Linked DNA regions of Homo sapiens: regions 1 and 2 are each linked to region 3. The links come from fine-mapping of genetic effects on gene expression. A gene starts in region 3. Each other region holds a variant in brackets. All regions are shown on one strand. Distances are from middle to middle.

The links. PIP is the estimated chance that this variant, and not a neighbour inherited with it, causes the effect.
Region 1: its variant is the best candidate, but not a certain one, in a credible set for the expression of PTCH1 in T cells (TOPMed, PIP 0.88).
Region 2: its variant is the best candidate, but not a certain one, in a credible set for the expression of PTCH1 in whole blood (INTERVAL, PIP 0.65).

What each region holds. Positions count from the first base shown.
Region 1 is chr9:95,758,011-95,768,690 of GRCh38, forward strand. LOC105376161 (a long non-coding RNA gene) reads left to right here and starts at 6,922. Exons shown (of 3, transcript XR_930145.4): 1 at 6,922-7,029. RefSeq lists a silencer at 4,606-4,655. The variant C/A (reference allele first, on the strand shown) is at 4,833.
Region 2 is chr9:95,742,824-95,753,503 of GRCh38, forward strand. No RefSeq gene overlaps it. Among named protein-coding and RNA genes, the nearest start is that of ERCC6L2, 130 kb to the right of the region's middle. The variant T/C (reference allele first, on the strand shown) is at 6,033.
Region 3 is chr9:95,506,774-95,516,851 of GRCh38, forward strand. PTCH1 (patched 1) reads right to left here and starts at 2,493. Exons shown (of 24, transcript NM_000264.5): 1 at 1,388-2,493. The coding sequence starts at 1,588. RefSeq lists silencers at 1-68, 599-648, 1,429-1,748, 4,023-4,462, 4,683-4,732 and enhancers at 174-807, 2,393-2,942, 3,896-4,659, 4,660-5,421, 5,287-6,259.

The DNA of each region.
Region 1 (10,680 bases), 250 kb after region 3:
ATCCTCCCGCCTCAGCCTCCCCAGTAGCTGGAACCACAGGTGAACGCCACCACACCAGGCTAATTTTTAAATTTTTTGTAGAGATGAGGTCCCACTGTGTTGCCCAGACTACTGGGTTTTTTTGTTTTTGTTTTTGTTTTGAGACAGAGTCTCGCTATGTCACCCAAGCTGGAGTGCAGTGGTGTGATCTCAGCTCACTGCAACCTCTGCCTGCTGGGTTCAAGCAGTTCTCCTGCCTCAGCCTCCTGTGTAGCTGGGACTACAGGTGCGTGCCACCACGCCTGGCTAATTTTTTGTATTTTTAGTAGAGACGAGGTTTCACCATGTTAGCCAGGATGGTCTCAATCTCCTGACCTGGTGATCTGCCCCCCTCGGCCTCCTAAAGTGCTGGGGTTACAGGTGTGAGCCACCACGCCCAGCCCAGGCTACTGTTTTTATAGAATATAATTTGCTGTGTGATGATTAAATGTTGACAGGTGTTTAGTTATGTTTTTTCTCTAGAAAAGCATGATGATGCAGCGTTTTTCAAAAAATCTCAAATTTAACTTGAATTATTTTAGTAATCTTACCTACTCTTATAAACAAAAGTGCTCTTTTCTTTTTTTCTTTCCTTTTTCTTTTTCTTTTTTTTTTCTTTTTGAGTCAGGATCTTCCTCTGTCACCCTGGCTGGAGTACAGTGGCACAATCACAGGTCACTGCAGCCTCAACCTCCTGGGCTCATGCAATCCTCCTGCCTTAGCCTCCCAAGTAGCTGGGGCTACAGGCACATGACACCACACTCAGCTAATTTTTTACCCTTGGAGAAATGGGGCCTCCCTATGTTGCCCAGGCTGGTCTCGAACTCCTGGGCTCAAGTGATCCTCTCGCCTTAGCCTCCCAAAGTGCTGGAGTTACAAGCATGAGCCACCACACCCAGACCCAAAGTACTAATTTTAAGGGTACTTTAAAAGTATTTAAGCCCGGGCGTGGTGGCTCATGCTTGTAATCCCAGCACTTTGGAAGGCCGAGGTGGGCAGATCACAAGGTCAGGAGATTGAAACCATCAAGGCTAACACAGTGAAACCCCATCTCTACTAAAAATACAAAAATTAGCCAGGTGTGGTGGCGGGTGCCTGTAGTCCCAGCTATTCAGGAGGCTAAGGCAGGAGAATCGCTTGAACCCAGGAGGCGGAGGTTGCAGCGAGCCGAGATCGCGCCACTGCACTCCAGCCTGGGCGACAGAGCAAGACTCTGACTCAAAAAAAAAAAAAAGTATTTAAGTACTTTAAATGCTTTTTAAAGCAAAAAGTATTCCCAGCATATCACCCGTCCTCTCCACCAGACTCAGCTCTGAATGACTTTTGCACCCACCCCACAGAAGTGAAAATGCGTCGCTGCTGAAATCTATTCAAAGAAATGTGCCTTGTGAACACGCCCAAAGATGGCAGGCAGAGGCATCCTCAAAGCTGACCTCCAGGTCGGAATAGAGGTCGGTCGTCTTCCAAACCGCACCTTGGAGCCAATAGCATTCTTTCTATAAAAAAAAAAAAAAATAAGGCCAATTACTTAATATCCACAACTGGTGTGATAACATTCCTGCCTACCCAAGCACCCATGGATAGAGAGTTAAACAAAACATATACCCAAGAGAAAATGTGGAAAATGCTTTAAATTTTAGGCTTCTATTTTTTCTTATATGGGAAATTTTAAGGAAACGTGTGTGAGACAAACCTCGGTTTGACGTCTCAGGGTAGAGTTTCTCACAGTGTGATTGCAAAACCCAGCAGAATTGTAGGGGAAGAAAGATTTCTTTCCTCATTCATTGCTAGGTTCATGGTTGAGGCACCTATAACAAAAGACAGCTTAACAAGTGAGAAGCATACACATTGACTTCATGTAAGTTTTACCTGACATGAGAGTTTGTGGAAATGAAGACCCAAAGAAAGTGGGAAACCTGCATATTTTTAAGCTTAGGTTTGATGAAGAGTGGTCAGGCGTGCGGAAGTGTGATTGGACAGGGGAGAGCTAGCGGTGCTAGCCTGGGGGGACTTGCAAGGCGTTTGTTCAGGTTCTTCTCTATGTCCCTGCATCTTCTGAGATAAGGATACTCCTCTCCTCTGGGTACAGGGGGAACCTCTCAAATGAGGGTCTTATGACTGGCTTCAGGAGAGAAGAGCAGGAGAAAGTCAGAGAGTGACCTTCTAGGTTGTAGGACCTGTGTCAGGGCAGGAGGGCTTTCCCGCTTCTGCTATTTTCTCAAATGCCAAGGTGCCAGATTTGGGGGTAACATGCCTTGAACCTCATGAGAATCATTTGGGGAGCTTGTTAAAAATGAAGATGCAGGTCGGGCGCGGTGGCTCACGCCTGTAATCCCAGCACTTTGTGAGACTGAGGAGGGTCGATCACGAGGTCAGGAGTTCAAGACTATCCTGGCCAACATGGTGAAACCCCATCTCTACTAAAAATAACAAAAATTAGCCAGGCGTGGTGGCACACACTTGTAATCCCAGCTACTGGGGAGGCTGAGGCAGGAGAATCGCTTGAACCAGGAGGCAGAGTTTGCAGTGAGCTGAGATTGCGCCACTGCACTCCAGCCTGGGTGACACAGCAAGACTCCGTCTCAAAAAAAAAAAAAAAAATGAAGATGCCTGGGTCCACCCTGGACCTATGGAATCAGAATCTCCAGGTTTCATGTTTACCTGACTCTAATGAATAAATAAATAAATAAATAAATAAAAGATCTGCCGAGGTTCATGGTCTGCTAATAGGGCAAGGAGCTATCGTTACAGAGAATTCTAGAGCAAGAAAACCCTTACGGTTTATGTGCCAAACCTGCGTTTTACTGATGAAGAAATGCAGATCCAGAATCACCAGGGAATTTTAGATAAACTTCCTAGCTAATTCTCAGGCATAGTAAACCCTCAGAAACTTGTCCTACAGTTTGTCTGAGCCCTACGGAGGACGGCTCTTCTTTAATCTCCTGGGTTGCTTATTGTCTTAAACATCAAGAATGCTCCCTGACAGCAGAGGAGCAGGCCCGGCAGCACTCAGAACTGAGTGAACACAAGCCAGAGAGTGCCTCGCAGCCCAAGAGCTCTGAGTTGGTTTTTAACTAAGACATTCGTAGTCAGAAAGAGGCCAAGCATGCCATTCTTAATTTAAGATAAAGGTAAGGCCGAGGGATGTGTCTGCATATTTATGACAAGCTCAATACGTGCTAAGCAAAAGACACGTGGCACTATCCAACTCCGTGGGTTTTTTTCCCCCTCTAATGACAGACTTAAACTCAGCCTGAAAGCTGACCTTCGAGTCCCTATTTCATTATTCTAAGCCAGCATTATTGGTTATGGGAAATAATCCTGTTGGCAGAAGGAAATACTTAAGGAGCAGTTTACTTTAGTCTTTGCTAGGCATGTGATGTAGTGTGGGAACGAAAACAAGGGATGTTTCAGCTTTGCCTGATGTCCCCCTGTGAGGTGACTGACTCATGGTTTTAGAAATAAAGACATCTCCTGCATCAAGACCCTAAGTTAAATTCCTAGGTCTCTGTGGCCAGTGACAAAGGGGGAAATTAAGACAGTGAACTGGATTATTTTATTTTATTTTTGAGACAGGGTCTTACTCTTCTGCCCAGCTGGAGTGCAGTGGTGCGATCAGAGCTCACTGCAGCCTTGACCTCTCAGATCCAAGTGATCTTTCTACCTCAGCCTCTTGAGTAGCTGGGACTACGGGTGAACGCCACCACACCTGACTAGTATTCTTATTTTTTATTTTTTATTGTGGAGACGGGGTCTTCCTAAGTCACCTAGGGTGGTCTCGAACTCCTGGGCTCAAGCAATCTGCCCACCTTGGCCTCCCAAAACACTGGGATTACAGGCATGAGCCATCATGCCCGGCCTGGATACTTCTAGACAAAGAGAAATACCAGTGTTATTTCCTCTATAGGGCCCGTGGTTTTGGTGTACAGACTCACCCTATTTTGTCATTATGGATGCAAGATTCATTTCAGAGTATCTCCCTGAATTTGACTAATTGGCCAATTGATTTTTCCTGGTTACCATCCTTGGTTACACACATCACAGTTATCTCCAAAGCTGCTTTTCACAGCAGTTGAGTGTGCATACTGGAGTCTCACTGACTGGATTCAGATCCCAGCTCTGCTACTTATCATCTGGGTGACCTGGCTTGGGTCACCAATCATCCTGGCCTGCCAGGGACTGAGGGATTTTTCTGGATGTGAAACTTTTGGTGCTAAAGCCAAGAAAGACCCAGGTGAACTGAGGCCAGCTGGTCATCCTGGCCTTTGAGCAAGTTACTTTACTGCTCCAAGCTTGAGCTTCCTCACCTGTATTGCGGGTTGCCAGTCATAGTGAGCTACCTTGTGGGGTTGTTGGAGGACTCAGGAGGTGTGGCCCTAAAGCAGTTGGAACTGGGCCTGGCACATGGCACCTGTGTGTTTGTTGTCATTTTTTCATCAGCAGCACTCCATTCTGCCCCCTGACATTACACACGGCATTGGAGGGCTGGTGCCATGTGGTGGCAGAACGCAACCAAAACCAGACCAGACCACAGACACCACTTGTGGATGTTGTGAAGCGTTCATTGGAACCTTCCTTCACTGTGTGGTTGATGGTTGAGATGCTTGCAAAACAAGTATTTGGTATGTCTTGTGTGGTAACAGTTGTGACATCTGGGTCCCGAATAAAGAGTGTACCTCCCGGAAGGTAGGGTGGCCATAGACTCACCTGTGAGCCATGGAAAGGGGGGAGGCCATGCTCATTTTGATGAAGCAGGTAAGATGGTGACCACGCCTGGGCACGGACAGAGATGGGATAGGAGTAGTCCTGTGTGC[C/A]GGGAAGGGTTTGGGGAAGGGGACATCAGACAAGTCAAACAAGGACTTGGACTCACTAGCTGATCAGGGACCTTAAATGTCACTTGCACCTGGGAGTCCCATCACAGGAGGAAAAAGGCCAAGTCTGTTTTCTAAGTTCCTCAAAACTTCATAGGAGAGAAGAAAAATGATGGGAAGAGACATCAGTAACAAAAGGCAGGTAATGGAAATATGAAGCTATAGGGGCCAGAGTTTATAACAAATCTCCTTCATTTGTCATATGCCATCAATCAACACATTTATTGAACACCTACTATGTGCCAGGTGCTGTGTGCCATCTGCACTGGAGCTGTGTCCCGGAACACAACAGACAGTGCCTTCTACCATAGTTGGGCCAGACTTCCATTTCTTCATTCAGCATATGGATATAAAGCACCTACTATGTGCCATGAAGTCTCCCAGGCACCTGCTTTGTGGCATTTGTAAATGAATAAGCATGTACAGGAAAATATCAGGGTTGGCTGCGTGCGGTGGCCCATGCCTTTAATCCCAGCACCTTGGGAGGCTAAAGTAGGTGGATCACCTGAGGTCAGGAGTTCGAGACCAGCCTGGCCAACACGGCGAAACCCCATCTCTACTAAAAATACAAAAATTAGCCGGGTGTGATGGCATGTGCCTGTAATCCCAATTACTTGGGAGGCTGAAGCAGGAGAATTGCTTTAATGCAGGAGGCAGAGGTTGCAGTGAGCCGAGATCGCACCACTGCACTCAGCCTGGGTGACAAAGCAAGACTACATTTCACACAAAAAAATTAATAAAAATAAAAATAAATAAAATATCAGGGTCCTGAGAGAATAAGAAGGCTCCAGCTCTCTGGACACCTGCTCTGGGTCTGGCCTTCCTCTACTTGCTCAATACATCTTCTCCCATTGAAGCCTCACCACAGTCTACCTCCTATTAAACTAAACTAGCTCACATTGCATGAACTAACATATTATGAATAATTTTATCCTCATTTTATAAATGAGGGAGTTGAGGCACTGAGATGAGAGCCTCACCCCGCTCTTCAGCTCTATCCTAGCCCATCTCTTTTGAGGCCTCGGGCAATACCGGGGGGTACTTTAGGTGGTCGCACCTGCAGAAGTCCTGCCGCTTTCTAGTGGGCAGAGGCCAGAGATGCTGCTAAACATCCTACAATGCAAAGGACAGCCCCATAACAGAGAATTCTCCAGCCCCAAATGGACTGAGTGCCAGGTGGAGACACCCTGCTCTCAAATGCCTGGGGAGAGGGCTTGTGGGAGGCCTCTTTGCTCTTCCAGGTTTGGGCTGTGTCCATGGCCATGCAGCTGTCTGGGAACAGCAGGGGCAAAGGCCCCAGCAGGATGAGAATTGGCCTGTGCATGGAGAGCATGCAGGAGAAGGTGACAGAGGGGGAGGGGCGGGGAGAGTGGGGAGATGTGGCTGAGGTCAAGGAGCTGGCATTGACCCTTGAGTGTCATCGGGAGCCACTGGAAGATCAAAAAGTGTGAGATTATAGATGGCTTTTTATTATTATTTTGCTTATTTCTGTTTTATGACTGCTGTGGGCTGAATTATGTCCCCTGCAAAGCTCACGTGTTGAAATCCTAACCCCCAGTACCTCAGAATATGACTAGATTTGGAGATAGGGTCTTTACAAGATAATTAAGTGGAAGTGAGGTAATTAGGGTGGACCCTCCTAATCCACTATGACTAGTGTCCTTATAAAAAGAAATGAGGACACACACACGTTTGCACACAGAGAAGACTCTATGAAGACACAGGGAGGAAAGGACGGCCATCTATAAGCCGTGGAGAGAGGCCTCAAGAGCAAACAGCCCCTCCCACACTGTCATCTCAGATTCCTGTCCTCTAGAATTGTAAGAAAATACATCTCTGCTGTCTCAGCCATTCAGTCTGTGGGACTTTGTTATGGCAGCCCTGGCAAACTCATACAATGGCTGTTCTCCAGGATAGAAATATGTGTACACAGCCGTATAGTTACAGAACCCACCCGCCCCCTCAACCCCCCCCCCGCCGAAGAAAAACAGTAAAAATGCTTTAAAAGGATGAGGCAAAGGAGGCACCGTCAACACCCTGGAGACTCCATGCAGAAATGAAAGCTCTGTCTAAAAAGTAGCTGTAAGGATGTGAGGAGAAATCATTTTCCAGAAACAAGGATCCCCCAAGAGGAATACAGGTAGGACATTTCAGTGTCTCCGGCCTGACAAGTCCAGACACGCACACATCTCACCGTGAAGGCGGACAGTGCTCAGCACACCCAGCCTTCAGAGGATTTAGTCCGGAGAGAAGCACGCAGGGCTGCGGTGGATGCGTTCGTAGCGTAGCCACTACCTGTCTCCTTCTGATGAGTTTTGAAACTGCTTTGGAAAAGGCAGTAGAGTTTACAAAGGGCATTCAAGGTTACAAGAGGGGTGGCATCATAGACTGAGAAAGAAAGAGAAAGGACGAGGAGTAAGGAAGGGAGGAAGGGAGGGAGGGAGGGAGGGAAATAAACAACTCAAACGTTTAGCAGACAGTTTCAAATGGCCACTATGGGTGGATGTCAAAATGAGAAGGGGAGTTGTGAAGAAAATATATAATAAAACATGCACAATGGGCTAAGGAGGAGGGGCCAAGGAAGCCTGTGTTAGCCCAGGTTACTTTGCACTTGGATGTATTTAGAGTGCTGTTGGTTTGCACACAGCAGACATACTGTGCAATTGTTCTAAATATCCCCTTATGAATGGAATATGACACAGACCACAGCCATCCCCCCAAACTGTGTCCCATTAATTGTGGAATTGTGGAATTGCCTTGCTTGGATCTCAGAAGGAAAGCTCAGTTGTATCTTTTCTTTGTCATGCAATCTGACCTGCAGAGACACGACTGGAGTGAGGCTGTTAGAATTTTCTTTAATTTAGAATTTTCCACCATCATCACTTTATCTGACAGCTTGTTAGAAACCTAGAAAACATTCCCTCAGCCAGGCGCGGTGGCTCAGACCAGTAATCCCAGCACTTTGGGAGGCTGAGGCGGGCGATGACATGAGGCCAGGAGTTCGAGACCAGCCTGGCCAACATGGTGAAAGCCTGTCTCTACTAAAAATATAGAAATTAGCCAGGTGTGGTGGTGTGTGCCTATAGTCCCAGCTACTCAGGAGGCTGAGGCAGGAGAATCGCTTGAACCCGGGAGGCAGAGGTTGCAGTAAGCTGAGATTGCCTGTCTCAAAAAAAGAAAAAAAAAGGAACCATTCCCTTTCAGCAAATGCCTCAGTAGCAGCTGCCAGTGACTGTTTCCACTGACCCTCCCTGCCAGGGCTCCCCTCTCAATCTGATAACTGCTGCCTATTCCAAATTCCCTGTGGTGAAAACTCCCTCTCCCCAAATGTCTCAGAGGCTGTGGTCGGTGTTGAGTCTGGCTGGGCCTAGAAGGTTGAAGTAGAATTAAAACCATCTGAGTAAGTGATCGTGGATTGATCATGTGGTCCTAGCCGAGATGCAGTCAATTTCTGCAAGAGGGTGGGTGACGGATGCCTCCTCAGAGAAACCTGGGAGGGCTGAGGACAGGGTGAGAAGGAAAGAGTGCCCTAGCATTCAGAACAAAAGGAAAGGTGGTGAGGGCAGGATGTGCCGTCCCTTAGAAAATGGAGCGAGAGGAGCTATGGAAATTGTGGTAGGCTGACTTTGAAGATGGTCCACAATTCCCACCTTCTGGTAGATGCACCCTGATGTCATCCTTGACCTGGTATGGGCTGGACCTAGTGACTTGCTTCTGTGATTAAATTACAAATGACTGTGACTTCCACCTTGCTAGCACATACTCTTTCTCTCTTGTGGGCTTTGATGAAGCAAGCTGCCACACTGGAGAGGTCCACATGGCAGGGGACTGAGAGTGTTTTCTGGCCAACAGCTGGCAGGGAACTGGGTCCTGCCACCACTGGAGGCCAACCACGGAGCAAGCCTGGAAGTGGATCCTGCCCCAGCTGAGTCTCTATGACAGCCATGCGGGACGGGACACTGGGATCCCACACCATGATTGCAGCCTATGAGTGACCCTGAGGGAGGGGGTCCTCCAAGCATACCCAGATTCCTGACCCCCAGGAACTATGAGTCCAAAACATGGCATTCTTTTAAGCTACTAAATTTTGAAGTAATTTACTATGCAGTGATAGATAACAGTACAAACCCCAGCTGAGACTTGCATCCTCTCACCCCAAGCCCTGAGTCAGAGGCCAGCTACTGCCGTGGCAGTGTGAGCCCTCATTTGCAACACAAGAGGGTGGACCCCAGTCCCTTCCAGGTCTAGAACTCTACATACCTGCTGGCATTACCACGTAATGAGCTGTTCTCCTGCACAAAAGCCTTACCCTTTCTTGCCACTGTAGGCCCAGGCTCGGAGCTTCCAGGTATGCCCTAATGCCCAAAGGTGGGCACTGAAACCCTTTGTAAAATGAGATAAGCCGTTCTTAAATCGCCTAACATTTGTAGACTAGGAGTACCTCTGAAACTATGAAAGCAGAAGCATTTCTTGAATTCTTTTTTTTTTTTGAGAAGGAGTTTTGCTCTTTTTGACTAGGCTAGAGTGCAATGGTGTGAACTTGGCTCACTGCCACCTCTGCTTCCCGGGTTCAAGTGATTCTCGTGCCTCAGCCTCCTGAGTAGCTGGGATTACCGGCACCTGCCACCATGCCCAGCTAATTTTGTTTTTTTTTTTTTTTTCAGTAGAGACAGAGTTTCACCATGTTGTCCAGGCTGGTCTAGAGCTCCTTACCTCAAGTGATCCACCTGCCTCGGCCTCCCAAAGTGCTGGGATTACAGGTGTGAGCCACTGTGCCTGGCCTCTTGAATTCTTCTTCAGGTAGCCTCCCTGCCTTGCTCTATTTTTTCCTCTAACATTTCCACCATCTAATGAGCTTTGTTATTTACTGATTTATTATGTTCATTGCACATTGTCTGTCTCAACCCACCCACATATACTCAAAAGAAATTCTGCCAAGCAATAATCCTTGTCTGTCTGATTCACTGATGTATTCCAAGCACCTAAAATAGTTTTTGGAGCACAGCATGTGCTCAATAAATAATTGCTTAATAAACAATTGTTTTGGGGAGGCAAGGTAGGGTGTGGTAAGGACGGGAAGGTATTAGGATACAAGTCACAATAAACTTTGAACTGCGCTGCATTACAATTTTTTTATTAGGCTGGGCGTGGTGGCTCACACCTATAATCCCAGCACTTTGGGAAGCTGAGGCGGGCAAATCACCTGAGGTCAGGAGTTCAAGACCAGCCTGGCCAACATGGTGAAACACCATCTCTACTAAAAATAGAAAAATTAGCTGGGCACAGTGGTGTGCACCTGTAATCCCAGCTACTCGAGAGGCTGAGGCAGGAGAATCGCTGAACCTGGGAGGTTGTGGTTGCAGTCAGCAGTGATCGTGCCACTGCACTCCAGCCTCTGGGTGACAGAGTGAGACTCCATCTCAAAAAAAAAAAAAAATTATTAAATGTCCACACTGGATCTTAAGCACCAGTATTATGCCCTAACACAGAGCTTTCCAAGAGTTGACCCAGTACAAGTTATTGCTCCCTCAGCCCTTGGAAAGTCTGGAGCCCCTGACCAATTAATCTCAGAGAAGCCTGCTATAGATGGAATGTTTGTGTCCCCCCAAAATTCATGTGTTGAAATCCTAACCCCCAATGTGATGGTATTAGAAAGAGAGGCCTTTGGGAGGTGATTAGATCATGAGGGCAGAGCCCTCACAAATGGGATTAGTACCCCTATACAATCCCCACAGACCTCCCTTGCCCCTTCCATCGTGTGAGGTTTCAATGAGACTGAGGTCTATAAACC
Region 2 (10,680 bases), 240 kb after region 3:
ATAAAAGGAATAACTCCAGATCATAGTAAAGATCGGAATTTCTTCTAAGTTTATCACATTCTTAGGGCCATTCCTTATACTCTGTAGTGATAGTAATAGAAACATACAACTTTTTCCTCTTCCTTCCCAAGTTTCAGTCCCAGGATGCTATCCCTGAGACCTCTTATCTGCATTGCCTCAGCCATCCTGTGGTCGCAGTGTTTGCTCCGCATATTCTGCCCCTGCTCACGTCGCCCTTCATCCTGCCCCAGCCAGACATGCTGTCTGTACAGCCCACTGGTTCTGGCAGCCAGGAGTTTCCTAGGACCAGCAGCATCGATTGTGCTCCACTCAGATCAAGGAAAGAGTTCCCCTCAGCTCTTACCTGGCAAATAAGGTATGGATTTCCAGCTATGTTTTTCATTGGCTGGGGTTAGATTCTACTATAATCTAGATGTATCATTTGTGATAGATGAAGATCCCTTATGGGCGGTAACAGAGAAAGTTAAAAGGATGAGCATTTAAGTAAGTAGGACCTAGTACAAGAACATAATATAATCTAAATCTCAGAAAGAAGCTATGATATTTAAGAATTTAGCAATACATCTTAAGTAAAGAATATATAAAGTTTCTTAACAAATGAGGCAGCATTCCAAATGTCTTTGAAATGGCCTCGTGATATATGGTGAACCCAGATATATGTCGCATGTAGTCCAGTTTTTGCAGTCTCATTCCAAGAAAACACATTCAATTTAAGACACTTTCAAGAATGATAGAAATTTTGCTACAGATTTTCTGAAAGAAATTCATCTTTAGAAAACTTCCTGAAGATCTTCTTTGGAAATATTTCTGTTCCCCAAACTTCAGTACTCACAGTAGCTACCAGCTACCTCTCCTTTCTCTCGCCCACGCAGCTTTCTCATGGCATCCCCACTGACTTTCTCCTTCAAATGCTCTGCTTCTTTCTCCTCTGTGCCACAGTGGACAGCAGAATTGTCCCCTAGGACTTCTGTTTCCATTTGCCCCTATGCCAGACCTCTCTAGGATGGCCAGAGCATCTAGAACCACCTCATCTCCCGAGCATCCCTAGCACCCTCTGGGCAAAAGCACATGAGAGCCGCTAGGAAGCAAATCTGTTTCTCACTTCAACAGAAAACTCATGGAGCATTTTGGGGAATAAAATTCTCCACCTTGTTAACAAATCAGTAAGGAAGGATTATTCAGTAATTGATGGCTGACACTACTGGTTAACAATTTGGGAAAAAAAATATTACATTTCCTTCCCCCTGCCTAAATACATCCCAGATGGTCTGAAGAGTTTTACTTAAAATAAAAACCTAAATGAATTAGAAAAATATCAGTGGATATTCATCTAGTCACATAAAAGTCAAGAAAAAAAATCATAAAGACCTTGGCTATAACTTCATAAAAGTATACAATTCTACATGTCATAAAATGCCACATAAAGTTTTAGAAATGAAAAACTAAAGGAATATTTGCAATAGTTGCAACAGATAAATGTTCAATCTCAATTATTTAAACAGCTCTTACAAATCAATATGAAAAAGACAAACGCTTTAACAGGAAAACGGGCAAAACTGTAAATGGGCAATTCAAAGACAAATTTAAAAAGCTAATAAATATTGAAAAATAAGTGTTCAACCTTTGAAGGCCAGGCATACTCTGCCAGAAGAGGGAGGCAACGAGGTCAGTGGCTTATGGCCTCTGTGATGTGTGATGACAAAATCTTCCTGCCTCCATACATTGGATATATTTTTAGTGACAATCGTCATGATTTCATGGACCTGGGAGTTCTATTTTCTTTTTTGTTGTTGTTGTTTTTGTTTTTTCTGAGGCAGTCTGTCTCTGTCACCCAGGCTGGAGTGCAGTGGTGTGATCTTGGCTCAGTGTAACTTCTGCCTCCCAGGTTCAAGTGACTCAAGTGCCTCAGCCTCCTGAGTAGCTGGGATTACAGGCACCTGCCACCACGTCTGGCTAATTTTTGTATTTTTTAGTAGAGACGGGGTTTTGCCATGTTGGCCAGGCTGGTCTTCAACTCCTGACCTCAGGTGATCCTTCCGCCTCGGCCTCCCAAAGTGCTGGGATTACAGGCATGAGCCACCATGCCTGGCCAGTTCTGCTTTCTTTAAATCACTGTACATTGTATACACTCTTAACGGTTACGAAAATATGAAAATCCTTAAACGATCCAGGTGATTTAACAGAATACCTAAGCAACTTGTAGTTAGCGCTAAGCCCATGAACTTGGTAGACAGCAACTTATTTGGCCTTCAGAGCATCTGGTGTGTGAGTGTGAGTGTTTCTCAATAACTAACGTGATTCTGAGGTTTGCATTTATTTGTTCACCCCTCTAGGTGGACAGCCTGACTGTTATTTCCCTTATATCTCATTGTAGGTGGACTGGAACCATTTCTAAAGAGATCAGGAAGTATCAGGGAATGGGATCTATTCAGTCTTTCGGTTACCTGTAAGTTGAAGCTGAAAGTCAGCCTTGCTATCCATGGAACCTGCATCTACATATCCAGGTACTTTTTGCCTACTAAATCCTCTTCTCATTTCATGGAACTCAGCCTATCCCTGGGCTGCCTTTTGAAGCTTCTATTACTGGCTAACACAAGTGGTAGTCAGCCCAACTTTTGATCAATATCTTAGAATATTTTGCCACTGTTCTCAGTAAATGAAGTGATGTTTTCTCTTTTCATTAGCAATGAAAAGATAATCCATGTTGTTTCTAATAAAATCGATATTGAAGCTACATACGTGAAAAATATTTATAGCAATTTAGGAAATACATCACATGAAAACATTTTCGCTCTGGTTATAAAAAGGTCTTGAATTGACTTAATGAGGCCAAATATGGAAACCATGCCTTGGGCCTTCAAAAACTTTCTCTGGTCTTGAGAAAGCTCCTTGGCTGTAGTTTGAAACAGGCCTGGGGATTAGTCGAGCTTTCCCCAGGGCTCTGGGCATTACAAGCGAGTGCTGGTGGCAGGTGTCTGCACTTCCATGATTATCATGTTCCATCAGATGCTTTTGCTGTCTCACTGGGAATATGAACTCCCTGGCACTTGCCCTTCTCAATGACACCAGTGGCACCTGCAACTTTACTGGAGAGCTTTCTCTACCTACAAAAACATGCCGAGGTCACACTTGGGAAGTGGAAGTGCCAGGCATTTATCATCTCCTCAGCCAATAATAAAGAGGAATTGGAGGATAAATACCCCAACAGCCTCACCTTGGGTAGGACAACTCAGAGGCACATTTGGTACGGTCTCCTAGAGGTCCCCAGCAGGATTGAACCCCATATCCTGAACAGCGATCTGTTGACTGTAGGCGGCCCTCTCCCCATAGTCTTCACTTACCCCCTCTCCTGCTAGTGGTTCCTGAGATTAGTTCACAAATGAGCTTCTTGCACATGAACCTGTGTCTCAAAATCAGCTTCTGGGGGAACCCAACCTACTGCAATGTTGCTTAATAGTTGTTGTTTTTAATTTTATTGACACCATTGTCCATTGCAACCCATGTGATGTCCCTTAGGTTAGTCTGAGTCTCTTGGTCTGTCTAACATACCACTGACATTAGGTTCCATGTCAGCGAGTATACCTAGCCATTTATTATAGGTCCAGGCAGCTACCAGAGCTGAATTAGGTGAATAGGAAAAAGAATACCCAACCCTCACTACTACAACAGGACTATGATATGATCTCACTGAACTCTTGATCCTCTGCCCCAACCCCCCCGAAAAAATCCTGCTCCTCCTAGAGCTTCCCCCATCTGAGTAAACAGCAACCCCCAGCATCCAACTGTACAAGCTACACCCTTGGCCTTCTGCGTGACCCTTTTCTGGCTCTCACATATTTTACTGGACTTATCAGTGAATCCTGATGTCTCTGCCATCAAAATACAGATGCTCCCCAATTTACAATGGGATTATGTCCCAGCAATCCCATCATAAATTGAAAACATCATTAAGTCAAAAAATTATGTATTATACCTAACCTACCAAACATCAGAGCTTAGCCTGGCCTGCCTTAAACATGCTCAGAACACTTAGGTTAGCCTGCAGTTGGGCAGAGTCATCTAACACAAAGCCTTTATTGTTTTTTTTTTTTTTTACAATAAAGTGTCGACTGTCTCATGCAATTTGTTAAGTACTGTACTGGAGGTGGAAAACAAAAGGGCTGTATAGGGCCTGACATCCACAGCTGAAATCACAAAGGGCCTGAAGGATATGGGACACATTGAACTACAGTTAATTGGATGATGGGGATGCTACTGTGACAGGGTCATCCATGTCTGTCTTCTGATGAGCCTCAACAATACCTGGTAGCAGGCCCTGGGGCATCCACACTTGTCCATGGCTTGGCCGGCATGGACTTCTTCAGGAAGATCTCTAGTCTTGGTCAGGTTTAAAATGTAAAATAGCGAGACAGAGTACAAACTGTGAGGGGTAATATCTTTTCATTAAGCGTAGACTTTACTTCATTCATGAAATATTTTACTGAACGGGAGTCATATCTTTCAGTTGAAATGATTTTTCTGCTTTAGTAAATTACATGAGATATTCAACACTTGGTTATAAAGTGATGGTGATCGTGGTTGCGTGGCCGACTGGGAGCTGAGGCCCACTGCTGCACCCAGCGTCTCGAGTGTCATACTGCATATCGCTAGTCCAGGAAAAGATCAGAATTCAAAATGTGTACTGTGATTTCAACTGAATGTGTATCTGTTTTGCACCATTGTAAAGTTAAAAAAAATCATAAATCAAGCCATCGTTAGTCGGGAACCATCTGTATATCCAAAATACAACCACTTTTCATGGCCTCCTCTTCTATTCTTTGGTCCAAGCCAGGATCCTCTCACCTGGACTATTGCAAGAGCCCCCTGTTGATCTCCCTGCTCCCACCCTCATCCCTCTATGGTCTAATCAGTGGTTGGTAAACTTCCTCTGTAAAGAGCCAGATATTTCAGGTTGGTGCAATTATTTTCGCACCAACATAATAGTATGTATTTCAGGCTTTGCTAGCCTTATGGTTTCTGTTGCAGTTACCCAGCTTTGCCCTCACAGCACATAGACAGCCACAGAAAATAAATAAGCAAATGGACATTGAAGTTTGAATTTCACGTCGTTTTCATGTACCACAAAGTATTACTCTGTTTTGACTTCTTATCAACTATTTAAAAATGTAAGAAACACTTTTGGCTGGGTGAGGGGGCTCACTCCTATAATCCCAGCACTTTGAGAGGCTGAGGTGGGTGGACTGCTTGAATCTAGGAGTTCGAGAACAGCCTGGGCAACATAGGGAGACCCATCTCTACAAAAAATACAAAAAAACTAGCCAAGTGTGGTGGTGCACGCCTGTAGCCCCAGCTACTCGGGGGACGCTAAGGTGGGAGGATCACCTAAACCCGGGGAGGAGATTGTGCCACTGTACTCCAGCCTGGGCAACAGAGTGAGACCCTGTCTCAAAAAAACAAACTCCAAAACTCACTTTTCTCTCCAAAACCCACTCTTTTGTTCAGGCTGCACAAAATCAGGCTGAGGGCCAGATTTGGCCCACAGACTGTATTTTGCCTGCATCCGCCGGTCTAATACCTAGAGACAGTCCAGTCCTCCTAACACCTGCAGGACAATGGCATTCCTCCATAACCAACCTTCCCATCGCTGCTCACCTCCCTCAGCTTAGCAAGAAGAGTCCTCCAGGGCTCCTGTTTGCCACTTCCCTGCTCTGCTGGTCTCCACAGCACTTAACACCTCCGACCCTACTGTCTGTTTTACCTGTTTATTGCCAGAGTCCTCACACCCCAAATTAGAATGGAAGTTCCATAAGGCAAGAGATTTTATGCCCCCAAATCCCAGAACAGTGTCTTTAAGCACCCCCTGAAGAACTGTCAAATGAATGAATGAGTGGATGGATGAGTGAGTCCTTCCCATCCTTCTGCGATAGTTGAGCACAAACTGCGGCATGTCTCACTAGAAACACCCTGCAAGTGTTCCATCGAGCTAATTAGCTTTCCATTGTAGTTGAAAC[T/C]TATTAGAAACCTGAAGAAGATTGGCCATTTCCTATTACCTGTTCTTCCAATTTTGACTAGTCACAGCAACAGAGAGAAATAAACATCTTCTCATCATTGGTGGTGTACTTGACTTTCAGAGCAGAATCAATTTTTTTTTCCTGAAATGAAGTTTCACTCTGTCAACCAGGTTGGAAGGCAGTGGCACAATCTCGGCTCACTGCAACCCCTGCCTCCCGGACTCAAGCCATCCTCCCACCACAGCCTCCCAGGTAGCTGGGACTACAGGTTTGCACCACCACTCCTGGCTAATCTTTTTTTAAGAATTTTTTTGTAGATATAGAGTCTCCCTATGTTGCCCAGGCTGGTCTCAAACTCCTGAGCTCAAGCGATCTGCCTGCCTTGGCCACCAAAATGCTGGGATTACAGGTGTGAGCCACTGCACCTAGCTTGGATCTTTTTTTAATATTCTCCTCTGTACAATAATATTATTTTCAAGTAATAATCATTAGTAGTCATCATTTCCTTAGTGTTTAGATCTAAAACAAAAATTTTAAAAGGAAAATACATTTCAACAGAAAGATATGATTCCCATCCAGTAAAATATTTCATGAATGAAGTACAATCTACACTTAATAAAAAGATACTACCCCCCGCAGTTTGTACGCTGTCTCACTGTTTTAAATTTTAAACACAAATAAAAACTGAAAGTGGTCACCTGCAGTGACAGAATTCAAGTCCCTGCAGTTGTAGTTTTTCCTCTCTACGATCACTGTGCTGTCACTCTTTCTTTCAAACCTGCTGCTTACATGCAGGCACGTGCAGCCCTGCAGGCCTTGTGGAATGACCTGCTCTGAAACCACCTCGGTTCTGGGCCCTCCTGAATGCAGCTTGAAACAGATGCCGTTGGCTGAGTCCGCACGTGTTGGAGGTGGGAGTGCTCCAGATTAACCAGATTAACCTCGTGGAGAATAGAATGTTATTGAAGGGTAAGCATGAAAATGTGCTGATTTGAAATCTACAGCTATATTATTAAAGCTCAGACAAAATCGCAGCAATTTTTAAAACCGAGACCAAGAAAAGGTTTTTTGGCCAAGAAGGAAGAGTTCATCACTGGTGTTGTTTAGGTGAAAATAAGAAGCAGACCCTTTAGTGGGTTTTATGGCTGCTTTTTAAAAAATTAATTAATTATTAATATTTTTGAGATAGGGTTTTGTTCTATTGCCCAGGCTGGAATGCATTGGTAAGATGATGGCTCACTGCAGCCTCAAATTCCTGGGCTCAAGTGATCCTCCCACCTCAGCCTCCCGAGTAGCTGGGACTACAGGCGTGTATCACCACACCCAGCTAATTTTTGTATTTTTAGCAGAGATGGGGTCTTCTTATGTTGCCCAGCTTGGTCTCAAACTCCTGGCATCAAGTGTTCCTCCCGCCTTGGCCTCCCAAAGTGCTGACATTACAGGCATGACCCACTGTGCCTGGCCTCATGGTTGCTTTTAATGTCTCTCAAACAATGCACCATTTTGTGCCCTGGGCGGGGCTGCTCCCAAGCCTCACCCTCTATCTGCTAGGGCTGATCATTTCTCCCTGTTTGGGAGAATCTGTCATCCTTCGTAGTCACAGGCAGCTGTCAAATGCACATAACATGGTGAGTTCCCACGAGTCTCAGTTGCAATGGCGCGGCCCCTCCATCCAGCAATTACAGCAAGTTAGAGATGGAAAGGACCAAAGAGGGGCCTGTGTAGAACCTTTTGTCAGAAAAGAAAATTTTATTTATGTGATTAAAAAAATTATAAATTCTTTTGCTGACATTATTTGGTTATGGATAAAGCCTTTTGAGTGAGTGGGCTGGCATTAGGGTCCATTTGGAAGATGGATATGGGAGAGTCCAGAAGTTAAGTGACGTGCCCAAGGCCTCGCAACCCAAGTCTAGCCTTAAACCCTCAAGGACATGTGTAAGGCCTATATTTGCATTTTAAAATTATGTTGAATTCAAGGCCCTTTGTTTACACATCCAGGTTTAGAAACCATTGCTCTTACTGGAACTCTGAGGTGAGGCTTCAAAACCCACAGAGGAGCGGAGGAAACTGTGGTTTCCTGATGAAAGAGGCTGAATTTGCTCACCTTAGGGTGTGCAGGGGCCCACAGAGGCCTCCACAAGGTTCCTACCTGAAGGAAATCTTGGGAGGGCCTCAGTATCCGGGGCTGACCAGTCCTGAAGCCCTGGAGTCTAGTGCCATGGGCTTGTTGGCCAACGTGTTATAGACTCTAAGACCATGTCAACCAAAAGTAGTTCAAACACCTGTATGTCTTTAGTCCAAGGAAGAAAACACAGACTCTAAAGTTGTTCATGGTGGTAACTATGGTCACGTTTGAGTACCTCAGTCAGATGGGCACTTTCTCCTCCTCAGGCTGTGGAAAAGCCTGACCAGTTCTGACCAATGTGTACAAATGTGCTCTGTCCACAACCAAGGCGTGTGCGGGCTCTGCAGTGGTGTCTGTGAGTCGGGATGCTCAGCAGCAGAGGGAGGGGAGGGAGGAGAGGGATAGAGCCTGAGCTGTGGGAGAGAGAGGATGCAGGGACAGAGCCTGAGCTGCCTGATGGAGGGGGAGGGCAGGGATGGAGCCTGAACGCGGGAGGGAGGGAGGGGAAGGATGGAGCCTGAGCTGCAGGAGGGAGGGAGGGGAGGGATGGGGCCTGAGCTGTGGGAGGGAGGGAGGGGAGGGATGGAGCCTGAGCTGTGGAAGGGAGGGAGGGAGGGGAGGGATGGAGTCTGAGCTGCAAGAGGGAGGATGGGAGGGAGGGATGGAGCCTGAGCTGCATGAGGGAGGGAGGGAGGGAGGAGAGGGATGGAGCCTGAGCTGCGGAAGGGAAGGAAGGAGGGGAGGGATGGAGCCTGAGCTGCGGGAGGTAGGGAGGGAGGAAGGGAGGGAGGGGAGGGATGGAGCCTGAGCTGCAGGAGGGAGGGAGGGGAGGGATGGGGCCTGAGCCACAGGAGGGAGGATGGGAGGGAGGGAGGGAGCCTGAGCTGCGGGAGAGAGGGGAGCGATGGAGCCTGAGCTGCGAGAGGGAGGGAGGGGAGGGATGGGGCCTGAGCTGCAGGAGGGAGGGAGAAGAGGGATGCGGGGAGGGAGGGAGCCTGAGCTCCGGGAGGGAGGGAGGGAGGGAGGGCGCAGTGCGCCTTCGCACAGCCAGGTAGCAGGGAAGGGGCCGCATTAAACATTGAAAAATGCGACTAACTTGTTCATCCTGTGCCAAAGACATCACCCCCTTCTCAGATGCGTGGGGCACGTCACGCACGATCTGCCCCCCCTCCCGCTGCCCTCTCAGTGTCCCGTCCTCTTACAGACGGGAGCCTCCCGGCGCGGGTTGGGAGCGAGCAGGGAGAGTGGCGCCAGCGCAGGAGGTCCCCAGGCCGGGTCCTCCTCACACCCAGGCGAGGGGAGCGCAGGAGCGACCTGCGGGGGCCCCGGGAGGCAGAGCGGCGCCTCCGGGGAGAAGGTCCCGCAGAGCTGTGGGGGGGCAGGGGACTGCCCGGGAGGAGCCCAGCGAGGCGGAGACCAGCAGGACCGACCCAGGGAGCTCAGTGGGGGCGGCCAGGTCAGCCCGCGGGGGCTGCCATAGAGGCCTCAAAAGGAGGGCCCTCAGCGGGTGGGGGGGTCAGGCCCTGCCAAGGACTGTCTTCCCGACCTTCAAGCAAGACACCCCGGGGCAGGGACTGCCAGGCGCGGGGGGTCAGGCCAAGTCTAGTGACTCCTTCGTGCCCCTCTCTGGTGTGGCGGAGAAGAAAGAAGGAGGGAAGCAGCCAGAAACAGCGCGGAGCGGGACTGGGTCCCACCTGGAGACCCTCGGAGCTAATTTCCGCTCAGGAGGAGGCAGGGGCAGCGGCTCCTGCCCTGAAATCTTGCTTCGGCCGCTGGGCCACCGCCAGCAAGTCCCTCACCCAGGACAACTGCGAGCATTGAAAGGGAGGATGCACCTGCCGCCCCCAGGCAATGGCTACATAGTAGCCGTTATTATTATTTTGAGTTTGGGATTTAAAAAACCCATTCCATAATTATCCAAATACATACCATCTTTTCAACTCAGTTTTGGATTCAGGGAGTGGGGAATGATTTGTAGTCAGAGAACCTTCGGGAGAGTGCTTTGGAAACAGTCTTGGGCCAGGCCCAGGCCCTGCATTTGTAAAATGGAGATAATATCAGGACCTACCTCCTATATATTTGCTGCGACTAAGGAAAATAATGCAGATTTTAGCACAGTGCCTTTCACATAGAAAGTGCTCAAAAATACTAGCCGCATTATAGCTAATCACAGCATCATCACCATAGTCTTTTAAAAATTTTTCACCGTGAAGTTATTATTTAAAAATCTTTTTCAAATTTTATGATCATTGATTACCATTTCCCCCCCACCCTATGAGATAAATTAATCAGGATTTTATTGGCTGATGAAAAATGTTTACCACCGGTCTATTCTGCGTAGCTTTACTAGACTGTTCTAGTGTTGTCAAACCTCTACTGTCCTATTCGGATACTTCAGGACGTTGTTTTTTAGTTAATGTATATATAGACTCTCAACACCCTGGCTCTTAACTGGGGTTGATTTTACTACCCAGGCAATATCTGGAGACATTTCTGTCACAACTGGAGAGGGGGTTGCTAATG
Region 3 (10,078 bases):
GCTCGGTCATAAAGCCGGGCCGCAGCGTGGGAGCTGCACCTCGGGGACATCAGGGCGCCCCCACCCGCGGGATCCCTGAGCGACTTGGGGCACTGGGGCTGCAATACAGAAGAGGAAGCCGAGGTAGAGAGGAGAGAAACCACTCGACACAGACAATATTCACCCCAGAGCTGAGAAGGGAGGGGCTGCGTAATCCCAGCGATGGAGCCCAAGGTTCAGGAGCCAGCAAACCAGTCCTGCTCTGTCCATCACCCTCGGGGACGGGCGCTAGGGGCGAGCGCTCTTTGGAACAACATATTGCGGGTTCCCCCAACTGGACCCCCGCCGAGAATGGTAGTAAGTGGGGATCCACGTGGTGAGCGCGGCCGCCGGAGTTCACTCCCGACGCATTTCCATAGCGTGGGGAGAGGCTGTGTGAGCTGAATTAGGAAGTGGGGCAGCCAGCTGCAACTTACGACAATATTTGTGATCGGAAGAGGGCAGCCACATGGATCTTTCCCTCCTCTCCCTTCCTTTCTGGTTAAACGTAAAAAACAGCCGAGTGCAAAGGGAAGGGCTCAGGCCGGCGCAGGCTGCTCCCCGGCGCGGCATTTCCCCGGCGCTGGCCGCGGCCCCGGCGGGCCCCCGTCTGGGTGCTCGCCTTCCCTGGATTCCACACATTTCAGCGAGCCTCGTAAACACAATGAACCCGGCAGCTCCGCAGACTCGCACCGCGAATTTAAGGTGGCAATTTGTTTACAACTTTTCCTCCCCCGACCAGGCCCTAAGGAGAGGCGGCTCAAAACCTGGAAAACGGGGGGGATATCTTTTTCCGAGAATAATTTTTTAAGGGAGCAGAGATTTCATGCTCAACAAAACCAAAACTGGCTGCCAAAAAAGGAAACCACCTTTATTTCGGCTCCCTCCCCCCTTCCTCTCTCCGCCTCTCTCCACTCCGCCTCCCCCTCCAAGATGTTAAGAAATGTGGCAGCCGTACAGGAGTTTAGGCTGCAAATAGGGGCAGGGGCGCAGGAGGAAGAAGTTCAGGGCAGGGGGCACGGGGCAGGACAGTGCCGCGGCCGCCCTTGAGGTGGTCCGCCGTGGACGGCTTTCCAGTGCTCCGGAAAAGGCACACCAGGGAGGGCGTGTGTATACACACACACACACGCACACACACACACCTCCACCCCCTGCGGACCTCAGACAGCCCTTTCCTCCCAGGACCAGAGGGAGGGTTTGAATTTTTCAATCCCCATTTGTCTGCTGCTTTTCCTGGAGAGGTGTGAGTGAGTGTGTGTGTGTGTGTGAGAGAGAGAGGAAGAGAGTGTGTGTGTTTGTGTGTGGCGGGGGCGATCCCAAAGAGTTAGAGGAGGGAAGAGAAAGTGGGAGGAGAGAGTCTGAAATGCACCTTGGAAATCTGCTCCAGAGCGAAGGCGGCGTCGCAGTAGCTGGGCCGGTGCAGATAGTCCCGGTCCGGCGCGGCAGCACGGCGCAGCCCCCCCGTCCGTCTGCGCCTCCCGCCTCCAGCCGGCCGTCCCGGGGCACCGATACAGCCGCTGCCGCCGCCGCCGCGGTCCTGGGGCTCGGCGGCGTTACCAGCCGAGGCCATGTTGCCGCCGCCGCCGCCGCCGCCGCGGGGACGGAGGCTTCCCGGGCGGCCCGGCGCGCTGCTGCCGCTGCTGCGGGCTCCTGGCGCGCCTGGGCGCTCGGCTTGCGAGGACGCTGCTGGCCGCAGGCTGCTCGGGCTCGGGCTCCGGTTGACAGACCAGCCGCTGCTGCTGCTCACACGGCGGGCGCTGCTGCCGCTGCGGCCGCGGCCGCTGCCGGGGAGTCAGACCCTGCGCCTTCCATTGCCACATTGCGCGGGGGTCCCGAGGTCTCTGCGGCCGCCGCTGCCCACATCCAGTTCGCGGAAGAGCGAGAGCCGGCGCGCCGAGCGAGCCTGTCCTTCGGGCGCTTCCGCGGCACTCCTTGCGGTCCCCAACTCCCCCTACCCGCCCCCCGCCCCGCGCCGCGACCCCTTCACTGCAGAAAGAGCCAGCGAATCCCCGCTGCTCCCGCCGGCCGCGCTGGCTCTCTCGGCGCCTCCCGGGTCGCCCGAGCGGCCGCGGAGGGCAAGCGCAGAGCCGCCGCCGCCGCGGGGTCCGAGGGTGCCCGGCGGGTCTCAGCGCTGCCGGGCCCGGGCAGCCGCAGCTGCCGCTGCTCCCGCGGTGGCTGCTGCTGGCGGTGGCGGCTCCAGGAGCTGCTGCTCGGGCTGCTCGGGCTCTGGCTGCTGGGTTCGCGGTGGCTGCTCGGTCCCGGACTCTGCTTTCTTGTGCTCCTCGGCAACCCGCTGGACCATTCTGTCCCCGTGCAGCGCGCCTCTCTCGCTCCCGGGACCTGGGGACTCCGCTCTGTGTGTGTGCAGCGGGCAGCGGCCGCAGCAGCTCCTTGATTCAATAGATGAGATGGAAGAAGAAAAAAAAGAACTCTCTCCATTTGGAGAAAGAAGAGGAGGAGGGGAGGGGAGGGGGTGGAGGGGGAGAGAGCGAGCGAAAGAGAAAAAGGCTGGAGCTCCCGCCCCCGGGGCTGTCAGATGGCTTGGGTTTCTGCGACGCGATTGGCTCGCGGAGGGCAGAAATTACTCAGCAAACATGACTATTATTAGCTGCTTAGCAACAGCTCACCAAAGTAGAGAGACCACCCAGGTAGGCAACCCAGTGTGTGCATCCTCGGCTTCGGGGCAGCCTCTGAGAGCGCCAACCTTCTCGCATGCAATACTTCCATTAAGGAATGCTCCCCCTCCTTTCTCTCTTATTCCTTTTCTTTTCAACAGTGTCTTCTTTTTGTGGGATGCCTTTGCGCGCACACACGCGCGCGCACGCACACACACGAACATTTGCCTCGCGGTAGACACGGGGGGAAATGTAATATTTTTTTAAGCGCTTAAACAATTTCTGAAATTCCTCAAAGAAAAGCCTTTCAGAGGCACCTTGGCCTCAAGCTGCAGCAAATACTGGGAGGTCCGGCTCGCATTCCCAGGCCTGCACCAATAATGACAGCGTGCTGGATAGTGCGCCAGTGTGTGCCAGATTTTTTTTTCCTCTTCTCTTTTCTTTTATAACTAAAGGGAAGACTTAGGCTCTTGCAGGGAACAACGCCTCGCATTAAGATAAACAGAATGGAAAGTTAAAGAGGAAAGCAAGGACGTTGGGAAAAGCCATCTTTCTTAAAATCCGTCTGCCCCCCAGCCGCTTTCTCCCCCCAACTTAAAAAAAAAAAAAACACAGTCTTGGTTTGAAGGAGTCAGTGTTCTATAAACGTGGAATCCAGACACCGAAGCAGTCTTGTAGAGGCAGAGGCGTTTTTATTTGAATCTCGAATGTGACATAAGTAAAAGAGAAACAACAGAATCTTTTTTTACAACTTAGAGAAACGGAATTGTTTCCTTGAGAGAGTAAAGTTTTCCTGATTATTTTGGGTTCATTTGTACACCCCTTTTTATTAACCAGATGTTTATATAGTCAGTATTTTTTTTTACAAAACTCGGTATGCATGTTATATTTAATAATAGTATGACGTAGGAGATTATAAATGCCCCGATGCTGGATTCATTGAAAACAAACTGTGCGCGGATCGCGAGGATTCGTCCCGACACCGCGTCCAGTGTCACCAAGGCATCCCGGGGATTCGCTTCCCGCGGAGGGGGAAAACACGCGACCCTTTGAGGTGGATTCTGGAGCCAGACACGTCTACACAACTAGGCTTTTTATTTAAAAAAATTTTTGTTTTCGGAAAGTGGAATGTGTTTTTCTTACGTTTCCAAGTTATTACGTTCCTCCCTGCGGTAGGAACCCGACCCGCAAACCCTTGATTTGCTTCACTTTATTTTTTTTTTTAAACGGGGTTGAACTGCAGAGGGACTGGCAGTAGCGAGAAGTCTAGTGAAGTCGTGAAATGGGGCGGTGTGGCTTTAAGATGCGCACGGTGTATGTTCATTGAAAAAAAAAGAAGAAAGAAAGGAAAGGAAAGAAAGAAACCCAGATGGAGGGAAAGGGGGAGGAGCAGGGAGAAGGCGGAGCTCCGGTGGCCACGTGACCCCGCGCCAGGAGGCCCGGTGCGCGCGCGCGCCCGGCTCCCGGACTCCCCGCGCCCGCGCGGCCGGGGCAGAGTAGGTAGGGAGGCGGATGCGCCGGGCCGGCTCCGGGCCTCCAGCGCGGTCTCCCGAGAGCCCAGGCGAGGCGCGCGCCCAGCCGGCGCGGACGGACGTGCCGGACGCGCCGTAGTACATTCCTGAAGGCGGACCGGCCCCCTTACGCTGCCCAATGCCCGCGCCGCCTCCCCGCGACCGGCCAATGGTCGCGCTCACGAGTCCCTGCCCATTCAGCGGCCCCGCGCTGGCTGCCCGGGCGCGCTGGGGGCTGCGGCGGGGCGCGCCGGCCACCGGGGCGGTCCACGCGGCTCCCGCAGGGGGCCCGTCCGCCGGCTCTCCCCGCCCCCTTCCTTCCTCCCCGGCGGTTTCCCCTCCCCGCTTCCTTCCTTCGGCCTGCGCCTTCTCCTTCCTCCCTCGCCCCGCTCCCTCCCTCAATCTCCCCTCCCCCACCAGCCTGGCCACCTTCCCTCCAGCCTCTCCTCCTCCCCGGCTTCAGGGGGAGGCCCTTCCCCCGACCCCCTAACCCGCAAACCGTATGCGGTGCCGGGGTCAGGGCGGGATGTCCCGAGGAAGAGAGGGAGACGGGGTGGAGGTGTTTGGGGGCGTTCGCGGGATCCGGAGGGGGACCTGAGCACCGGGCCAGCGCGGAAATTCAAAACTCAGACCGCTTAAGGAGCACGTGATTTTGTGAGTGCCTCAGGGAAGGGCTGCGGAAACTCGGAAAGCAGGCGGGCAGCATGCGAGGAAAATGACACTGAGTTGATAAAGAGCTCAGACGGCTCCACACATTGCCAGTTTCATCTTTGAGTACGATCCTGATGTTTATTAGGTTTGATAAATAGCACAAAACAGGAAAAGAGGTTTACTATTCTAGCTTTTCTTACTGAATGGTTATGCCGACACTTCAAGTCGAACCATTGTGTGTTTGCTTCTGGAAATTGCTTTTTAAAAACTGGGGGAGGGGGGTAGTACCCCTAGTTTTGCATGTTAGCCTTTTTATATTTCAAGCTTGCTGGAGGGCAAGGAACCATATAGCCAAAGACACGTTGCTATGTTTGTCTTTTCAAACTTCTCCACCACGTTTTGGCCCAAAACTATTAGTGTTTCGTCTCAATCTTTTACTAGAGGGATTTCAGTATAGCTTGTTTGGAAGAAGGAATTCTGGAAGGAAATGGTAAGCTGTGTGCCCGTAATGGATCCGCCTCACTCTCCGCACGCGGCTGCATGTCCTCTGGTTCCGGCGGCTGCCACATGCACGTCATTTCAGTGGCAAAGCCTCTTCCACTCAGGCCCATATCCCTTAGTTTGACTTAATTCCTAAACGTTTTGAACATTGATCCCCGGAGCTTTCAGTGCCCTGAGCCCCCTCGCCCGCTGTTTGATGGGTTAACTTTTCAGCATCTCAGACAATGGTCCCGGCCTGTAAATTCTACCCGTGGGTTCCAGGACGCACTCCGGAGCCTCGGCTCTAACGAGCGCTATCTTAATCTCCCCACCCCCCACCCGCCGCTTCCCCTGTGGTCTGCTTTTTTCATACTTAGAGATGAATTACTTTGAGGATCTAATTGGCCTTGTTTCTGTAACGTTTTAAGAAAGGGAAGAGGAGCCAGTGTAAAAGCCTGCTCGACTTGGGTGGTCAGGGCTGAGGCTGCCCCCAATTTGCCTCATTGCTGATGCATGCGAGTGCGACATTCCCAGCGATAATGTTGTTCCTAATCAATCTGCCCTTATTTACATTTGTAAGCATTGTCGGCTTTAATATGCATGCCCTGTGCAGGGGACTGCTGTGCCACACCGGGTTTGTTAACTTCAACTAACCACAAGGATTCCACAGATCTGAGATGCAGACTGGGGCAGCCAGACCTGCTAAGGTGTCCTCCGGGAAGACAGTCCCTTTAAATGGCCCTTCTGCCTCTGGCACCCCTTGTGACAGTTACCAAATAAAAATAAGTGAGAACTTGGGGCCTTATCAGCCAGCAGGAGTTGCCAGCCTTTATGAAGCAACAGCTGAGTGTTCCATTTCCCCTTTCCAAGTAAAGTTCATCTCAATGCATAAATTGTCATTTTGGTCTCCCAGTCATGATCCAAGACTTCTCATTGGAGTGTGTAGTTTTCAAAGCAGATGCCTTAAGCTCTCCGGATTCCCTCACATCTCCTCCCTTCTCTGTTCCAATACTACAAATATCCATGGCCACACCACACACATTTCAAAAATGACATCAGATTATCCAAATGATGACAATGAAATAAAACATCTGCCCTTTGTGTTGGGATGTTCCAATGGTAAGCAATTGTGGAAGCCAGACTTGGTGGAGTTATGAAAAACCACAGTGAGATTTAACTTTTCACTGGTTTCTCAGATCAAACCAAATGAGTCTTTAAAATCCAATGTAATTTGGCAAGTTTTGCAGAGTATAAATGAATAAAGGGGTTAATGTATTCCAGTAATTTGACCCTGGGGCCATTTATAATTTTGTCTACTGAGTTTAATACTCTTCCAGAAATACAAGGAATTGCAAACATGATTTTAAGTCCTACAGTATTTTTGTTGAGAGGGTCGGATGGAGAGAGGAATTGGGGATTTGATGCAATATTCTTTTACTGCATGGGGAGCCCAGGATACAGGATGTGAGTGATGGTCAAGGCAGGGCTTCAGCAGTTCCAAGCAGGTACCTTGAATATGAGTTGAGTCGACTCAACTCAAGCCAATGTGCCACCATCCACCACATTTTCTTGGCTCCCTAAGAATGCCTTACTATTTTCTCATTGGCAGCTTTTGTATATTCTTAAAAGGTGATGGTAGAAAATGAGTCTAAAAGGTTTCAGGGAAGTCGGGGACGGGGTGGGGGGAGATTCAGCAGCTACAAAATTTAAAACTACTGGGCTTGACTCCCCTCCCCTACTCCCTTCCACCTTCTGTTTCCTCCCCTTATTTACCCCCTCCCCAGGCTGGAGGAAAGGGAACAGCTCTAGCCAACTTGTCAAAATAATGCTGCTAATTACCCCTGATCTCCTTTAATGGGAAGCTGCTCCTAACTCCACAAAGGAGTAAATGAGGGGTCTACAGCACAAACCCGGGAGCACTGGCATTTTTTGAGCTTACAGTGAGCTGGGGGTGGGGAAAGCGGCAGAGGGGAGTGTCCTGAGAAGGTCCCAGAAATCTCCACATTGATTACTCCAGGTCTAAATACTAGCTTGAAAGGGGAATTAGACTTTATGTATTGCCAAAAGCTATTGGTATTCTCTTGCTAAGCATGTCACCAACTGCTGAATGTTCAGAGCCTACTATGAACTTGAAAGAAAACAGAGCATTGACCCCTGCATTGATCCCTCTCTCTCCAAATATATTCTTACCCACATTGCTTTCCTCTCATGGATAGAGATGTATTCCTACAACACCCAGACTTTGAACATGTTTTGCATCCTTCCCTCTCCTCGCCTCTCCCTGTCTAATATATCTCTATCAAGCTTTGCGTTTGCTAGGAGGCACACCATTCATTTCAGTGATCTCTGCTATTGGGTCCTGCATGAAAAAGAAGCTGAGCAACATGATCCCTTTGACCCACTGCTGGAGCAACAAATTTATCAGAAATATAGGCATGAGAAATGAAAGGGAAGTAAAACAATTCCAGCTTATTGTGTGTCTTTCTTTCATACTGCTAATCCGGTTTACACATCACGCCTACACGTCTCAATAGGGCATTATACACTGTGGCAGAGGCTGGAGAAAATAAAAGGTGTGTGTGTGTGTGTGTGTGTGTGTGAGAGAGAGAGAGGAATGAGGATAAAAACGGGAGACATATTTTAATCCACATTGATTAACCTCATCAGTTTATCTATCTGTAGAAAGTTGAAGATAATTTTGTAAAACAGCCTTTTTCTTTTCAGAAAATAATTCCAAATGGTTCTAAGTTTTGTTCAAATAGCTTCAAAGATTATGACTACTTTATAACCAGAAATTAGATACACCACTCACAGTGAGTTTGAAATGAAGCTAATACCCCAAATTGAGAATGGCGGGGCCTATTGATGTCTACCTTGATTCAACATTTTAATTGAAACAGATCATGGACTCAAAGGCATTTTATAGCCTTGTGGAAGGAAGCTGGGTGACAACTGGAACACACATAAACTCACAATCGAAAGCCCCTTGTTTTACAACTTGGGCACTCCATGCACCTGAGGCAACAATTTATCCGGAGTACCACCCAGAAATTTTAAGTTGCAATAACAAAGGATGACACCATAAAGCATTGTCTTTCTTTGTGGAGGCGATTAATTGCATGCTGAACTACTGTCGCCAATAAACACAGAAATAAATAAAAACCTAAAAGAAATGCACACACACAGAATGCTGAAAAAGGACTATTGTGGTAGTTCAAGACCTCAGTGATCCAATTATCAAATATTTAGAGCCACCCATTGTGGCTCTTTATTATTTATGTCTAGTTCTTTTGTATTTCTCCTCCCCAGGGAGGAAGAAAGGATAAAAAGGGAGGAAGACGGTCTTCTCTCCCAGGTGCAGGAAAACAGGTCTGTGGGTGTCTTCCACAGCCGCCCACCCATATGGTTCTTCTTAGGTGATGGAAACAGATCAGTTTCCCTGAGAGTGTGCTCATCCACACGCTAGCATCATTTTAAACATGAACGTACTAAATACGTGGAGACACAGCGCATGTCACCCAGAGGCACAGTTTCTGGGGGTCTTGGGGTTCAGCGCTGGGCCCGGGCCTGTAAAGTGAGAATCGGTCCGGCCCGCCCCCGGGCTCCCCTGAGGCCGCACTCTGCACTCTAAGCACTGGGCTGGTCGCCCATCTCTGTAAGGGTGGCAGCCACCCAAGCGCCTGAATCGGTGGGCATAAGAGTCACACACACCACCTCTCTTACCCACCGCCCCTTCCAGAACTCCAAAAGCCTCTCTGGCCCTTTTCCCGCAGCATGGGAGGGGAGGTGGGTAAGGTGCGTCTCTTCTAGCCCGGGTGTCCCGCACCCCTAGGCGTGCGTGCGGGCTCGAGAGCGGGTCTGCGGGGCGCGAGCGTGCCCTTCCCTGCGGCTGCGGCTGCTCCCGCGAGCTGGCGGCAGCGGCTTCCGCGCGCGCGCTCTGAGCCCCCTCCCCTCGGCGCTGTCACTCTCCGCACCAGCCCTTCCATCACCAGCTCTGCCTCCGCTGGCGAGTCAGTAGCCACCACCAGGCTGATGAGCGGAAGCCAAGGTGGCGACCCTTTCAGGCGTGAAAATGGGAGCTCCGGCGACCCCCTCCGTGAGAATTCCCCCCGGAGCCGTTCCTCAGCCGGGGCCCGCCGCGGCCAGCCCCCTCCCCGCCACGCGGGGCTGGCCTCGGGGGCGGGGGCCCGGGCGTGCGAGCGAGCGTGGAGGCGCGGGACCCGCGCTCCCGCGCCCAGGCGGCGCAGCCCACCCGGCTCCACGGCCCCGGCGCGCGGCCCGCCCCTCCTGCCCGGCGCTCGGGGCTCGCTCCTCCGTCCGCCGCGCGGGGCGTCCCGCGTCCCCGTGTCCCCGCGCCGCCCGAGGAGCACGGCGCGCGAGGCGAGGTGGCGTCGGCGGCCGCCGCGCTGGCTGCACTCACCATAGCCGGCCGTCAACCCCTGCTCGGAGCGCGGGTGCCGATGGCGCGGACGCTGGGCTTGGATTTCACATCAATTCCTTTTTTTTCCCTGGCCCCCCTTTCCTCGTCCTCCGCTCCTCCGTCTTCTCCCAGTCTTCCCTCGTCTCCCCCTTGCCTTGTCGCTGCGGGTCTCTTTGTCTCCCCTGTCGTCTTTTTCTTCTCCTCCGTTTTCTTCTTCTTCTTCTCCTCCTCCTCCGTCTTTACAAAAGGAACGGAAAGTGTAAAAACCCCGGCGCGCTGGGCCGCCGGAGGCTTTCGGCGGAGTGCAGCGCGGACTCACAATTACAAGCCTGTTTCTATTAAGCAGTTCCATGGCCCTCGGCGTGGGTGGTCTGCCGCGCCAT